4 linked regions of the Homo sapiens genome follow. Changing the gene in region 3 together with the main gene of any one other region gives a genetic interaction. Each region holds a gene or a part of one and is shown on either strand. Other genes may lie near its edges.

Region 1 (4,069 bases), on a different chromosome or scaffold from region 3:
ATCCCAGCTACTCGGGAGGCTGAGGCAGGAGGATTGCCTGAACCTGGAAAATGGAGGTTGCAGTGAGCCGAGATCGTGCCATTGCACTCCAGCCTGGGAAACAAGAGCAAAAAATTCCTCCTCGACAAAAAAAAAAGAAAGAAAAGAAAATGGAGCTGGAACTGCTGACGTGCAATAAAGCCCTGGGAGACGGACAGACGTCAGGGACTGTGCTGGGCGCGGGGGCTGATGCCTGTCATCCCAGCACTGTGGGAGGCCCAGGCAGGCAGATCACTTGACACCAGGAGTTCCAGACCAGTGTGGGCAACGTGACAAGATCCCATCTCTACAAAAAATACCAAAACTAGCCGGGCGCGGTGGTTAGGTGCCTGTAGTCCCAGCTATTTAGGAGGCTGAAGTGGGAGGACTGATCGAGTCCAGGAGGTCAAGGCTGCCGTAGCCGTGATTGAACCACTGTACTGCGGCCTGCGTGACAGAGTGAGACCCTGTCTCAAAAAAAAGTCAGAGTCGGGAGTAACGTTCAGAGAAAATGCTTGGGGTTTTGGATGGGAAAAGTTTTGCCCCTGACTAGAAATGATGGGCTGGGCGCCGTGGCTCACGCCTGCAATCCCAGCACTTTGGGAGGCCAAGGTGGGCGGATCACAAGGTCAAGAGATCGAGACCATCCTGGCTAACACAGTGAAACCCCGTCTCTACTTAAAAAAAAATACAAAAATTTGCTGGTCGCGGTGGTGAGCGCCTGTAGTCCTAGCTACTAGGGAAGTTGAGGCAGGACAATCACTTGAACCAGGTATGCAGAGGTTGCAGTGAGCCGAGATCGTGCCACTGCACTCCAGCCCTGGTGACAGAGTGAGACTGTCTCCAAAAAAAAAAAAAAAATGATGGAACACAGGTTCTTGTCCTGGAAAATCTGCCTTTCCTCTGCTCGGGATGGCTGGGTTCAGACGCGAGGGTGCCTGTGGTCCCTGGCAGCCTGCTGAGTGCCTGCCGTGTACGGGCCCCACACCCTGCGGCTCACGCGCATCCCAGGTCCCCTCTCATCCACTCTGAGACGCAGGCGGAGGACACCGACAAGGTGTTCAGATGAGGGAGCAGCGGGGCTGGGGCTGGGACAGGGGGTGGGGGGCTGGCCTCCAGGTGGCAGCTACTGATGGGGCAGCTACCGGAGTCAAGCCCTTTGAAATGAGGTCTTTGTGTGGGGGAGCTGCAGCCCCGCCCGGCACAGGGAGGGAGGCGGCCCCGGTGGGAAGGGCCCTGCAAGGCCTGCCCAGAGCACCAGGAGCTGGCTGGGGCTGGAGACTGGCGCTGCTGGAGCTGCAGCTGCCTGGCAGAGGGGAAACTGAGGTGGGGGTGTGGCTCTGGGACAGACATCAGGGCAGGACCTCCCTAGCCAGGGTCCACGGTCTGGCTGGGGGATGTGGACTGGCTGCAACGTGGGGCGGGGTTAAAGGTCTTCCAGGGCAGCCCTGGAGAGCACCACTCTGCATTGAGCACCGCCCGGGCCACAGGCCTGCAGTGGCAGGAGCATGAGTGAGCAGGGGAGGGAGACGGAGGAGGAGGAGGGGGGAGGTGGTGCTTCCGACACAGCGCCCATGCTGCCCCGGGGACCTCCCGACCACCAGGCCTCAGCCCTGACGTGCCCAGGGTGGTCGGGGCCCCCGCTGCTGCCCGGCCGGCTGCTGGCCGGGCTCCTGCTGCACCTCCTGCTGCCCGCCGCAGCCTTCCTGCTGGTGCTCCTGCCCGCGGCCGCCGTCGTCTACCTGGGATTCCTGTGCCACTCGAGGGTGAGCCTGTGCCCCGTGGGCGGGGGACTAGCTGGGGTCCTGGGGAGTGGGCGTGCCCTGGGTCTGAAGGCACTGTGCCCCCTTCCAGAATTGCCCCTTGTCCTCAGAGACACGTGTGCCCCTCCCTGGCAGCCCCTTCTCCCAAGCACCCCCACCAGCCACAGCCAAAGAAGAGCTTTTGTTTTTCACCCAAGGGACAGCTCTGTCCCTTCCCTGAGGCCTCCCAGCCTTGTACCAGGGGCCACCAGGGCCTGGACAGCTGGGTGGGGGTGGGGAGAGAACGGGGTTCCAGGAAAAGAAGATGAAAATGTCGTTGAAGTTTCACTAACCCACAGCCCCCAGCCCCTCCCCAAACACACAAGGCCCCTCCCAGGCCCTCCTGCCAGCGTGGGGCTTCCCCACCTGCAGAGTGGGCTGTGGCCTGCTCTGGGCCCCGGGCCCCTTTCTGCTGGCACGGGGGCTGGCGCCAGCTGGTGATGAGAGGGCGCAGGAGGGCAGAAGCGGGCAGAACGCGGCAGTGGGCGCTTTTTCTGAGCCTCCCCTCAAGGGACCCTGCTCAGCCCTTTACCTGCTGCGTCCCGGATCTCCTGTTCACCCCTCAGCACTGCCTGGCCCACAGCGGCCCGCCCCCTCCCCTCTCCCCGCCCTGCCTCTCCTTCGCCCAGGCCCTAATCCTTCATCCCTCCATCTCCCCCCTCCCTCTTCCCGCCCTGCTCAGCCCGCCACGGCCCCTCTACCGCCCCGCCCCGCTCTTTCATCTCTATCGCCCACTCCTCTCTCCCGCCCTGCACCCCTCCGTCTCCCTTTGCCGTGGCCCTGCATCCTTTCCTCCACCCCGCTCTCTCTCCCCTCCCCGCTCCACCCTGCTCCCGCCCATCCATCCCTCACCGTCCGGCCCTCACCGCCCCTTCATCACCCTGACCCACCCACACCCTCTCCTCCGCGCCTCCCCTTCCCCTCCATCACCCTGCCCTGCCCCTTCCCCTCCATCACCCTGCCCTGCTCCCCTCTTCTCCCCCTTCCCTCCATCATCCCGCCCGCTCCCCTCTCCACCCCTCCCCTTCCCCTCCATCACCCTGCCCAGCCCCCTCCCCTCCATCACCCTGCCCTGCCCCCAGCCCTCCATTACCCCGCCCCGCCCCCCACTGACGGCCCGCCCGGCCCCCAGGTCCACCCCGCTCCGGGTCCCCGGTGCCGCGCGCTGTTCTCAGACCGCGGCTCCGCGGCGCTCATCGTGTTCGGGCTTCTCTCGCTGCCGCCGCTGCTGGTGCTCGCCTCGGCCGTCCGCGCCCGCCTAGCCCGGCGCCTCCGCCCGCTGCTGCCTCCGCCCGCTGGGACCCCCGGACCCCGCCGCCCCCCGGGGCGCCCCGACGAGGACGAGCAACTCTGCGCCTGGGTGTGACCCGGCGGCCGCTGCGAAACCCCGGGAGGCCTCCGAGCTCGCGCGCGACCCCATCGCGTGGCCCGGCCCGGAAAACTGAGGGTCGCCCCCGCTGCCCCTTCCTGGCTGGGCGCGCAGCGCTCCCGGCTTACGACCCCGGCCTCCCCCGCCCGCAGCCCCGCCCCCGCCACGGAGGGCAGGGGAGGGGAAGAGAGGGGAGGGGAGGGGAAGAGAGGGGAGGGGAGGGGGAGAGAGGGGAGGGGAGGGGAGGGGAAGAGGGGAGGGGAGGGGAAGAGAGGGGAGGGGAGGGGAAGAGAGGGGAGGGGAGGGGAAGAGAGGGGAGGGGAGGGGAAGAGGGGAGGGGAGGGGAGGGGAGGCAAAGAGAGGGGAGGTGAGGGAAAGAGAGGAGAGGGGAGGGGAAGAGAGGGGAGGGAAGGGCAGGGCAGGGCAGAGCCCGGCAGGCAGCCCTCAGAGGAGGGGCGCAGGCCCCAGCCCAAGGCCTCCCGCGCCTGCCCAGGTCCCGGCCTCCATCGTCCAGGGCTCTGGGGCTCCCAGGGGAGACACCCACGCTCGGCCAAGCCCAGGGTTCCAGAAGCCCAGGGGTGGCGGCAGCCGGGCTCAGCCTATGGCCAGGCTCGCATTCAGACATGCGCCAGCCTCGGTCGGCTCTCTCCGGGAGACACTAAGATCTCCTCACTGACTTTGGTGTTCCTTGGTCTCACCAGCGCGTCCTAGCTGTGCCGAGCTCACACCCACCCTGTTTGGTGTAAGCCACAGGTCCACAACGTTCATCAGCTCTGGAAATCCCTCAACAATTGTGTCCAGTTTCACCACGAATTCCTTCTCCATATCCTCACCATTTTCTTTTACCCCCTCATCAAATTACTCCCTTCCGTCTAATCTG
Region 2 (3,500 bases), on a different chromosome or scaffold from region 3:
CAACAAACTGAACATTGTCAGTGTGATTCTGGTCACATAGGCCAAATCCAGCCAAATGCCAAAATGACACTAGATTTAGAATGGAAAATTTTAAGATCACATGTGTCAAGCAGTATTAACCTGACAAAATTCCAGAAGAGGAAAGAATTTGGATAAACTCTTAAGAGTTCACCATAATGGGATGTGACTGTGTGTTTCTAGCCAAGATGATATGTGACAGTTCTGGCAATAAGAATATATCCTACACAGATGAATCATTTTGGCAATGATGTAAGCATAGATACATCATGATTTAGAATGTTTTTAATCAGTGTTGTGCATACTAGACAATCCCACTTCTGCCAAAACCTCTGTCCAGATGAGTCATATCAGTTTATTTAGAGCTGAAATCCTAAAAGGTCTACAGCGTTATAAATGTTCATCGACATTTTTTAGTTACTCTAATTTGGAGAAGAGTTTATTTGGTCTATACCCTTATCGTGCATAAAATAATAACCCTTTCCAAATATATTGATATCAAGTAGTGAGTTACTTGAATTGCTACTTGTGAATATATGATGCTAATTATTTTAATCTGTGATGGAATTTCCTTTAAAGGATGAAGATTTACACCATTATTCTCCAGTTGGGTATGATTTTTAAAATTAGCATAGGTTTTCTGTGTGCAAGCTCTCCTTACAGGCTTAATGTTTCAACAGCTTTGCTGATCAGATACAAATCAGGAAAGGGATAGAATGTTAGATGATGTAGAAGGGAACCAAAAGAAAGTTTTCTCCCTTCTGCATCTGGAAGGTTTGTTGCTTCATGTACATCCTGTACAGCTAAAAAGGAGAATTGAAGTCGTAGTGAAAGAGTTCGGATATTAGTTTCTACATGCAATCTAGTTTATAAAGGTTGCTTTGCATTTATCAAGATACAAGAGCCCCAGAGATTTATGAGATAAAAAATACTCTTTAAGCCCTTTTTCAAATGTTTGGGATTTTGAGGTCAGATGTCAGATCCAGGGTGTTCTCTTCCTTTTGAATTATCCAACCAGGCCACTCAGATTCAAGGACGTGAAAGGAAGAAAGAATTAGTGGATTATTTCTAATTTGCGGATTAGTGCTAGGAAAAGAATAATAGCAGGGAAGTTTGGCTTCTTTTAGCTGTGCATTTTAACATTATTCATATGTAGCAGAAACCAGAAGATTGGGTTCCATTCTCCAAGAATTTGCTCTCATATGATGCCACTTGAAATATAATGCAGTATATGGAGCTCATAAAAAGGGAAGGAAAAAAAATTCTCATGCAAAACATTTAGTTCCAACTGAAACATTGAAATTCTTATTTTTTCTCTAAACTTAAGCAAACCTGAAAGAATTTGCTTTCCTGATGAGTATTCTGATACATTTCAAAAGTCATGAGAAAATGAGGGAAAAATCAGTCAGATAATAATAAAATTTAAACCATATGAAATTGCAAATATCCAACCATTTTTGGCCTACAAACTTGGTACCATTATCTGGTCATTTTTGAGCTACAAAAATGGTAATTTTGTGTGGTTCAGCCTAACACATTATTGTAGAAATCCATTATTTGCAACAATATGACAATTTTGCCTGATGGAGTAGAAGTATATTAGAATGCTATGGAAAGACTTTGCTTAGATATAAATCAGTAATAGGTTCAGCATGTTCTAGAGAAAACAACTGATTTATGAGGGTTTTGTTGTTCACATTTTTGTGTACATCTATTTTTTTAAAAGAGATCATTTATTTTACAGTATTTCCAAAGTTTGTCTCTCGAATATCGTTTTTTGTAATGGTCCATGGTCATTATGGGACTAATTTACAAGGAGATTATGTAATTTAGGCTTGTAATTCGTTCTTGCCCTTTTATTCTTATGCTCCACCAATCATATTAGGGTGAGAGTAGGTGGAAATAAATAGGTTTAGGGGAATGGAACAAAACAAGTTTTATTGTTCTATTTTTAACCATAAAGTAAGACAGGAACAGGACTTGGGGGCACAAGTCCAGGAAAGCAGAACTCAGTCAGAGGAATACAAAGGGGCTTTGTCTTTGACCCAGGATTCCCAGATATCCCCTGGGTGGTCTGTCTACCCGGTCGTGCCCAGGGAATGAGGGAGTGACAGACCCTGTAAAGGTTGGGCAGCAAGAGGCAACATCAGGACACTGAACTAAACATAGACCCTGGGGAGAAATACCTAGTATCTACATTTGGACTAAACTCTCAGAAAGTCACAGCTGGGCAGTCTTGACCAGATGGATATACAGAAGCTCACAACCGAAACAGGTTCACAGTTATTGTCAAGGAAACCCTGCATTTCACCAAGGCTACTTTATTACTCAAGAACCAAAATATAGACAGATGGAGCCCAACAGAGGGATTCTATAGCCCCTTCTCTACACTGATTGGTGTAGCAACACTAACATTATTTTGCCTCATCAGTAAAATAAATTTCACATCAGCCTACTATTCATCTTGTGTGTATGTGTGTCTTTATAGCCTATGTGCATAATATATATTATATATCACATTAGCTGTATTATATATCATATGCAATATGATATGTAGTAAGCTCATGTTATGTATTTATATGTATACAATGTGTTTATAACATATATTATGTAATATATATTGCTTGAATATTTAAATAGAAGCTATTCTCTGTGTATACTATCTGGTATATAGGAGTCCAACATTTTGTATGTAAATATATAAAATATATTTGAATAGGATATGCCATATATACATATGTTTATATATCACATTTGTATTCTATACGAAAAGAAATTAAGCAATGACCATAGCATATATTATGGGCCACATTTATACTTATACACACTGGTCTTATATAATGTACATACACACAATATCTAAATACTTTAAACAAGGAAGAGCTATAAGCAAATTCATTTCTAGGGCTCTCTTTTACAGCTATCTAGTGAAGAAAAATCATTCCTAAGACTAAAACCCAATGCTCTGGTTAGAATTTTCAAAATGTGACAAGTCTCTAGTACAAAGAATAAGATGTGTGTGTTCCCCCTGATGTGAGCATCTGTCTTTACTTAAACAGAGTACACCTTTATTCTTACTCTTAACTCTGAGACAAAACAGGCTGCAATAAACCAAACAATTCAGCTTGTAAAGTAAATGTTTATAACTGGCAAAGTGTAAATGTAACCCAATTAATAAACTTCTCCCTGAAAATAGATGTTACTCAACCCAGACATATATACACTTTAAATTTCTTCTCAAAAACACAAAAATCATGAATTTATGTGGATGACATTGAAAAACAGGCATCTTATAAACATGAGCTACTTAGTGAAGCTTTTCTAAGAATAAAATAGGCTTTAAGCAGATTTTGCTTATGGATTATAGTCTCTGAATTTTTGAGACGAATGTAGTAATTTTATTTCCATATATGAAATTTGGCACTGCCCAGGCATGCTATAAACAGCTTCATTGACTCATGATATTAAATGTTTTCACACTG
Region 3 (3,500 bases):
ATGCCTTAAGATAACTGTCCAGGCTAGGCACTGTGGCTTACGCCTGTAATCCCAGCACTTTGGGAGGCTGAGGCGGGTGGATCACGAGGCCAGGAGTTCAAGACCAGCCTGGCCAACATGGTGAAACCCCGTCTCTACTAAAAATACAAAAAATTAGCCGGGCGTGCTGGCAGGTGCCTGTAATCCCAGCTACTTGGAAGGCTGAGGCAGGAGAATTGTTTGAACCTGGGAGGCAGAGGTTGCAGTGATCTGAGATCGCGCCATTGCACTCCATCCTGGGCAACAAGAGTGAAACTCTGTCTTGGAAAAAAGAAAAAAAAAAAGATAACTGTCCAACAATGCTGTGGTTGTTTTTTTCATTTGTTTTCGTTAAAGTTTGTTATGGTGCTAGGATTATTATAAGAAGTGGGAACAATAGCTAATATTTATTGAGTGTCAACTATTTGCCAGGCTCAGGGCTAAGCCCTTTACACTCATTATCTCATTTAGCCCTGCTGCAAGCCTGTGATTCACGCGCTTTCATTATCTCTGTGCTAATGAGGAGGAAAGTGAGGTTCTGAGGTATGGAATAACTTCTCCCGAGTGGCACAGCTAATCATTGGGAGGACCAGCATCTGAACTTGGTTTCTCCTCTCACAGAGCCATGCTGTCATCCCAAGTGCTAGGGCTCTGCTCTTTTCACACTGTAGCCTGCACTGGTCTCACTGTGTTTTCACTCATCTTCCTACCCAGATGCACAAGTCTGGCGTTCTGAGGAAGGCCATTGATTACATCAAATACTTGCAGCAGGTCAATCATAAACTGCGCCAGGAGAACATGGTGCTGAAGCTGGCAAATCAAAAGAACAGTAAGTGTGCTGAGAAAAGGCTTGTCAGCCCTGGCCCAGGTGGGGCTTTGTAAAAGCAGATCATTTTCACCAGGTGGGGTTTTCTTTGCAGAGCTTCTAAAGGGCATCGACCTAGGCAGTCTGGTGGACAATGAGGTGGACCTGAAGATCGAGGACTTTAATCAGAATGTCCTTCTGATGTCCCCCCCAGCCTCTGACTCAGGGTCCCAGGCTGGCTTCTCTCCCTACTCCATTGACTCTGAGCCAGGAAGCCCTCTATTGGATGATGCAAAGGTACAGACTTTTGAAATCTCCTGATCCCTGGAATCTTTCCCATTTCCCCTAAGAAGATAGCTGGGAGGTCACAGTTATGAGGCCAGGCCGCATGTTAAGAGGGCCTAGCCTGGAGAAAAACAGGAATTCTGTGAAATTAGCCAGGTCCTGGAGAATAAAGAAAGAAAAAACTGACTCCGGGGGGAAACAGTCCCTCAGGTTTAACTGGTCCTTGCCGATAGGCCCCGTCAGAGAGGAATGAGTGCCAGATCCAGAACGAGAATGCAGAGTAGCTGTTGTGGGGGCGTTGGGAGCTGCTGGAGGCACCTCATTGCTTCACTCTGCCTTTAATGGGCCTGGCAAGACCACTTTGGGAGGCTGATCAGTTGGTTTAGGATGAGGCTGCCTCTGGGTCCTCTTTTCAGAAATGATTACAATTTGCAGTCTAACAGATAACATTTTACCTATGGGCCTTTAATCGTCAAAGCCCCTGGCAATGGTAGTTTAATGGAATTACTTAAGAGACGCTCTGAGCCTAATGATCTTCCTGGGAACCTGTAGAGACCACTGGGTTTTGTACTGTATTTTGACTTCGGCAGTTTCTGACTCTGAAAGCACAAAGTTCCCTCCTAGTGTTTGTTTTTGACTAAGCTGTTTATTGTATCATATACTTAATTTTACTAAGGAAGCTCCATTTTTGAAATATTCTTATAAATGTGGTTCTGTTTGGCAACAACAGGCTGTTTGACATATAAATTGAATTAGCTGGGCTTCTGAGTCATCAGAAGAAAATCTTAAATGGTTTTAAAATATTGAAAAGAAATGACATGCTATATACACATTGGGGCGCAGGGGAGATCTGGCTTCAGCCCTCCTGCTGTAAAATGGAGAGTGGGGTGGGTGTAGACAATGATACAGTTTTAGAACAGGTAAAATCCTTTAGATAGATTCACACTAAATACGGTCTTTGATCAACTTCATTGAGGTGTAATTTAAATGCAATAAAATATACCTACTTTAAAAGTACAGTACCAAGAGTTTTAACATAATGTACAGTGCTATGTAACTGTCACTGTAATCAAGATATAGAACATTTCCATCACCCCAAAAAGCTCTTTTGTACACCTTTGCAGGTAGTTTCCCACACCCCTCTCCAGCCTCAGACAATGACTGATTCATTGGTTTCCTGTTACTTTAGATTCATTTTGCCTGTTCTGGAATTATACAGAAACAGAATCATACAGTGTGTTCTCTTTTGTGGTAGATTTCTATTTTAAAAGAAAATCTCTTCTACCTTTGTTCTTTGGAACATGTACTTTTCTCAGTTAGCAAGCAGGTGAATGTGCCAATGTTTGAGCAGCAGTTAGTGAATTATAGGCTTCTCAGTTCCCATCTGGCCTTAGTCCTGAGTTAATCGACTTGAATTTAAACCTCATAACCATTTCTCAATATATATATATGTATTTATAAAGTGCTGTAAAAACCTATGCAGTATTTATTCCAACCTCGAGGCCTTGTTTTGAAGGTCAAAGATGAGCCAGACTCTCCTCCTGTGGCGCTGGGCATGGTAGACCGCTCACGGATTCTTCTGTGTGTCCTCACCTTCCTGTGCCTCTCCTTTAACCCCCTGACTTCCCTGCTGCAGTGGGGAGGGGCCCACGACTCTGACCAGCACCCACACTCAGGCTCTGGCCGCAGTGTCCTGTCATTCGAGTCAGGTAGGTGGAGGCCCCTTGCCCCACCTGGGCATGGCTGGACCACTATGGCAGGAGAAGGACCCTGTGTACAAACTTCTTGGCTTGGCTACCAGGTCCCAAAGGGCTTTTATAGTGGGCCCCCACCTGCTTGCTTCTGATAGGGACTGGCATAAGTTCCATTTTAGAAGTAACAAGGCAAGCCCAAGTTCAGTCAGAATGAGCAAAACAAATCAGGGACCCACACTACTCTAAATACCCTGGGGTGGAGGGGTGGTACCTATTTGAAGGAGGATATCGTGTTTTTTATCTGAGGTTGCAAAACCAATGCCTCAACCCTTTCAAAACAAAGATTTTTATGGCACTCAGCTCCATAATGAGAAGGGCTACAGTCATTAGCCCTGTTTAGATTATAGAATTATTTGCCCTTTCTTCTGAAAATGAGGTAGAAGACTCTTTCCTGTGATAGTGCTGGGGTCTGTCAGGTGCCTGGCTGCTCCGCAAGGCCTTTCCTAGCAGACTCTGCTGAGACGCTCCTTCTTAGGTTCTGGGGGCTGGTTTGACTGGATGATGCCTACTCTTCTCTTATGGCTGGTAAATGGTGTGATTGTCCTGAGCGTCTTTGTGAAGCTGCTGGTTCATGGGGAGCCAGTGATCCGGCCACACTCGCGCTCCTCGGTCACCTTCTGGAGGCACCGGAAACAGGC
Region 4 (3,500 bases), on a different chromosome or scaffold from region 3:
TAAAAATATCTGTGTAACACATTTTACTTATAATATTTTTGGTGAAATGATCTTATGCCGTATAAGAATACATGCAAATAGAAATACACACACACACACACACACACACACACACACACACTTCTGTTCATAGGATTTTGTTTATTTGGTAGGAGGTTTTGTATTATTTTGTGACAACTGCAAGTAAGCACTTTCCATCATGAGAAATTTAGATAGTGAGTGAGTACAAGTTCCTTAAAAAAAAAAACAAATAAAACAAACAAAAAAAACCACTTTCCCTTTTACCCTTTTGTCTATATTAGCTAACTAATCCTCCCAGTCATCCACTTAGCTTTGCTGGTGGAGGTCACATGGGAACCTTTGCACAATCTGAGGTTTGCACATTCTCTCTAAATAAACAATTGCGTTTATCACTAGATATTCATAATTGGAGCTCTGGCTTCTTATTTTGTAAAGTTCACTTTCCAAACCATGTATAATAAAACTAATTGCCATTATGTGTTATTCTAAAATATTTTAAGAACTTTTCCTGGGGAAGATGTATTTTAAATTACCATTTTCTTACCTAAGCACGGCTATCTCAAATATTGAAATAGGCTTATACAAACTTACCTTAAGAGTAACCTTCTTTTTAAGTTTTTAGTAACATTATAAAACAGAATGTGATTTCCTAATTTTAGAATGTCAGTTACAGACAAGTTAAAAACTCTGAATTAAAGAAAAATTAATAACCATTAATTTTTGCATACTAAAAATATGAGTATGTGCCACTTGTTATGCTGTGTTCCAGGAGAACAAAGACAAATAAAAGGTAGTAAGTCTCTGCCTTTACTGGTGGAAGAGGTAGTAGACATGGAAAGACACAATGGTGGGAGAGGCTCCCAAGGTGCTTTATAAGGAATAACAAAAAGATTAGGTTTGTGTTGCAGGAAAGTAAGCCTTCCAAAATAAAATACAAGATGAAAACAAGAAAATTTATACAGCCCCGACTGTTTAAGGGTCACAAGCTAAGCAGAGGGTATTAAAACAAGATTTCCATCTTTCAGGAGCCCATAATTCCATTTCATGTCATACAAACCATTTCTTTTATATTATTATAATAGGAAAGATAGTAATTCAACTCACCAATGAGGTCCATGAACCATTTTATTCAGTAGAGCTGAATAACATAAATAACATAAATAAATGTACCCCAAAGATTATCCATCAGTCAACTCTACCAAACCAGTTATTTTTCCAAGGCTGAATAATTATGATCATGTTAAAATGAGCTCTTGTCCCTTGTTTTGTCTGATCCAGTTTTCTAGCTTCAAGCCAGGCATTTTTAGAGCTCTATAATTTATTAATATCAAGTATCATAATATCACTAGGACCTCATAAGGATGGTCAAATGAGAGAGCAGGACAAATAATCTTATTTATCATTTAGAATGAAAAATAATTAGCTTTATTGCGGTCTGGGACTTATTTCAAGTTGGTAGAATCCATCCAGGAAAGACCATATTTGAGGTCTGCCAATTCTTGGTCCACAAACAAGAAACTTTGAATCAGTCTTTCACCTCTGAAATGGGTCTTAGAAAAATCAGATTTGAAAGATAGCACGCAAAATTGAAAACAAATATGTTAGGATGAGATTATAGGTGTTGTTTAAACACTTAAAAAATATTACTGCAGCATAATTTTTAGTTAGAAATTTAATTATTGAATTCAATTCCCTCAATTCTTCAGTGAAATAAATTGGGTTCCAGAGAGACTGAGTACTGCCAAAAGTTACAGTAAAAACAATTGAAGAGTAAGAGCTACAATCCAGGATGCTTGACTTCTAGCCCAGTTCTCTTCTTGAGACACTGGAAGTGTCTCAAGAGCAACAAATTAAAAACTTTTGGAGGTAACAATACTTTTTTCCCCTTCTGGAGAGATTAATATAAATAAGACATTGTAGGGAAAATAGATATAATTAAAGTTACTGATATAAAGATTTATACTGATATAAAGTTACTGATATAAAGTTTTCTATTTTAAACAGCCAATACATAAGTATAAAATTAGTATTTAAAGCAAAAGAGCTAAAAGCCCTGGTATTTTTCTCAATACTTTGCTCATTTGGAAAAAAATGAAAATAAATATATAACTACAGCAGTTTCTGAACTACCATTATTAAGTGAAATACAGTCAATAACAATATAAGTAAGTGCCTTAAGAAATGTCTTGAAATGTCTGTAATAATGTTAAAATAGCTGCCATACTTTACATTTGACTCACCTAGCTTATCATTAATATATGAGTGCCTACTATGTGCAAAGGACCTTTAAAAGGACAAAGGAGTATAAAGATAAATCCTTCCAGAGTTCAACAAAAAAGATACATGTTTAAATTAACATGGATTCAAGTTTACATGGTTTCAAGTTTGAGATAACATTTAAGCTGGACTTTAAAGATAGGCAGCACTAAAGGAAGCAGGGATGAAAGGAAGTGACATTTTAAACAGAGAAGTTAGTATGAGTTAAGGTAGCAAACGAGAAAGTTCCTAGCATATGTAGGGAACAAAGGTTACTTTCAAGGTGGAATATAGGGTGCCCTGAGGGGAAAAGTGGGAAGTAAATTTGTAAGGCCAGTGCAAATTGGGATTGTAGACGTTAATTCATAGGGAATGGGAATCCAAAATGAATCAAAATAAAAATATAATGATTGGTCTAGAAATACTAAGCCATAAACAAAATCTGGGTGAAAACATCTAATAGTCAACTACAGGCTTAAATTACTAAGGAAAAAAAAAAGTTCCCAACTATTGCAGTTGTTTCACATACAACAGTAATTCTATGAAAGATTTTATAGTATACTGAATTATGGAGGCACACTGATATTTTTTAAAATGGCCCAAAGTGGTTTGCCTCATAACTTAAAAAAAAATTTTTTTAACCATGGATTTAAGAGTCAATAAGGGTTTTTCACAGGTTTCTAATGTACAGATAAATATATGTATATTTTTCTAAAGTAGAACATTAGATCTTTCTCTAAGAGTATGATGATGACCTAGGCTGGACAGAAGGAAAAAAAAAAACTATGTAGAAGAGAAAAGTATAATAATTTTAAGAGGTGATAAAAGAGCAGGAAAGGGACTAGTGCCTTTCAAATCCTCTAGGTTGGTTCCCAAGCTGTGAGTTTTTGTTTAGCTGGTAAAGGTGACAGTTGAGGGGAAGTGACAGTGGATAATAGCACATAATTTGCAGTGAAGGAGATGATTACAAACATTCATAATATAGGATGGTGGTAGTAGAAAGAGAGGGTATGGAGTTATGCAGGCCTGAATTTCAATGCTAGTCATGTGATCTTGAAAACATTTCTTAACTTCCCCATAGTTGATTTTCTTCTATAAAATTAGGATAACAAATATTTACCTTACAGGGGAGAATTAGAGCATAGGAAAGAACTTGATAAACATTCAATACGTGATAGCTCTTCAATAAAAACCTTTTGTTAAGATCCCACTGTGTGCTTACC

What was found.
Region 1: changes in SREBF2 (region 3) and TMEM278 together harm fitness more than expected from each alone (negative genetic interaction), as found in Homo sapiens cells (one large-scale study listed by BioGRID).
Region 2: changes in SREBF2 (region 3) and PTCHD1 together harm fitness less than expected from each alone (positive genetic interaction), as found in Homo sapiens cells (one large-scale study listed by BioGRID).
Region 4: changes in SREBF2 (region 3) and PELO together harm fitness less than expected from each alone (positive genetic interaction), as found in Homo sapiens cells (one large-scale study listed by BioGRID).

What each region holds. Positions count from the first base shown.
Region 1 is NC_000001.11:1,424,602-1,428,670, forward strand, and holds the start of TMEM278 (transmembrane protein 278), read left to right. Parts: upstream 1-1,269; 5' UTR 1,270-1,526; coding exon 1,527-1,784; intron 1,785-2,952; coding exon 2,953-3,186; 3' UTR 3,187-4,069.
Region 2 is NC_000023.11:23,383,349-23,386,848, forward strand, and holds part of PTCHD1 (patched domain-containing protein 1), read left to right. Parts: intron 1-3,500. UniProt on the Homo sapiens protein: Required for the development and function of the thalamic reticular nucleus (TRN), a part of the thalamus that is critical for thalamocortical transmission, generation of sleep rhythms, sensorimotor processing and attention. Can bind cholesterol in vitro.
Region 3 is NC_000022.11:41,874,605-41,878,104, forward strand, and holds part of SREBF2 (sterol regulatory element-binding protein 2), read left to right. Parts: intron 1-732; coding exon 733-847; intron 848-938; coding exon 939-1,120; intron 1,121-2,624; coding exon 2,625-2,817; intron 2,818-3,337; coding exon 3,338-3,500.
Region 4 is NC_000005.10:52,794,416-52,797,915, forward strand, and holds part of PELO (protein pelota homolog), read left to right. Parts: intron 1-3,500. UniProt on the Homo sapiens protein: Component of the Pelota-HBS1L complex, a complex that recognizes stalled ribosomes and triggers the No-Go Decay (NGD) pathway.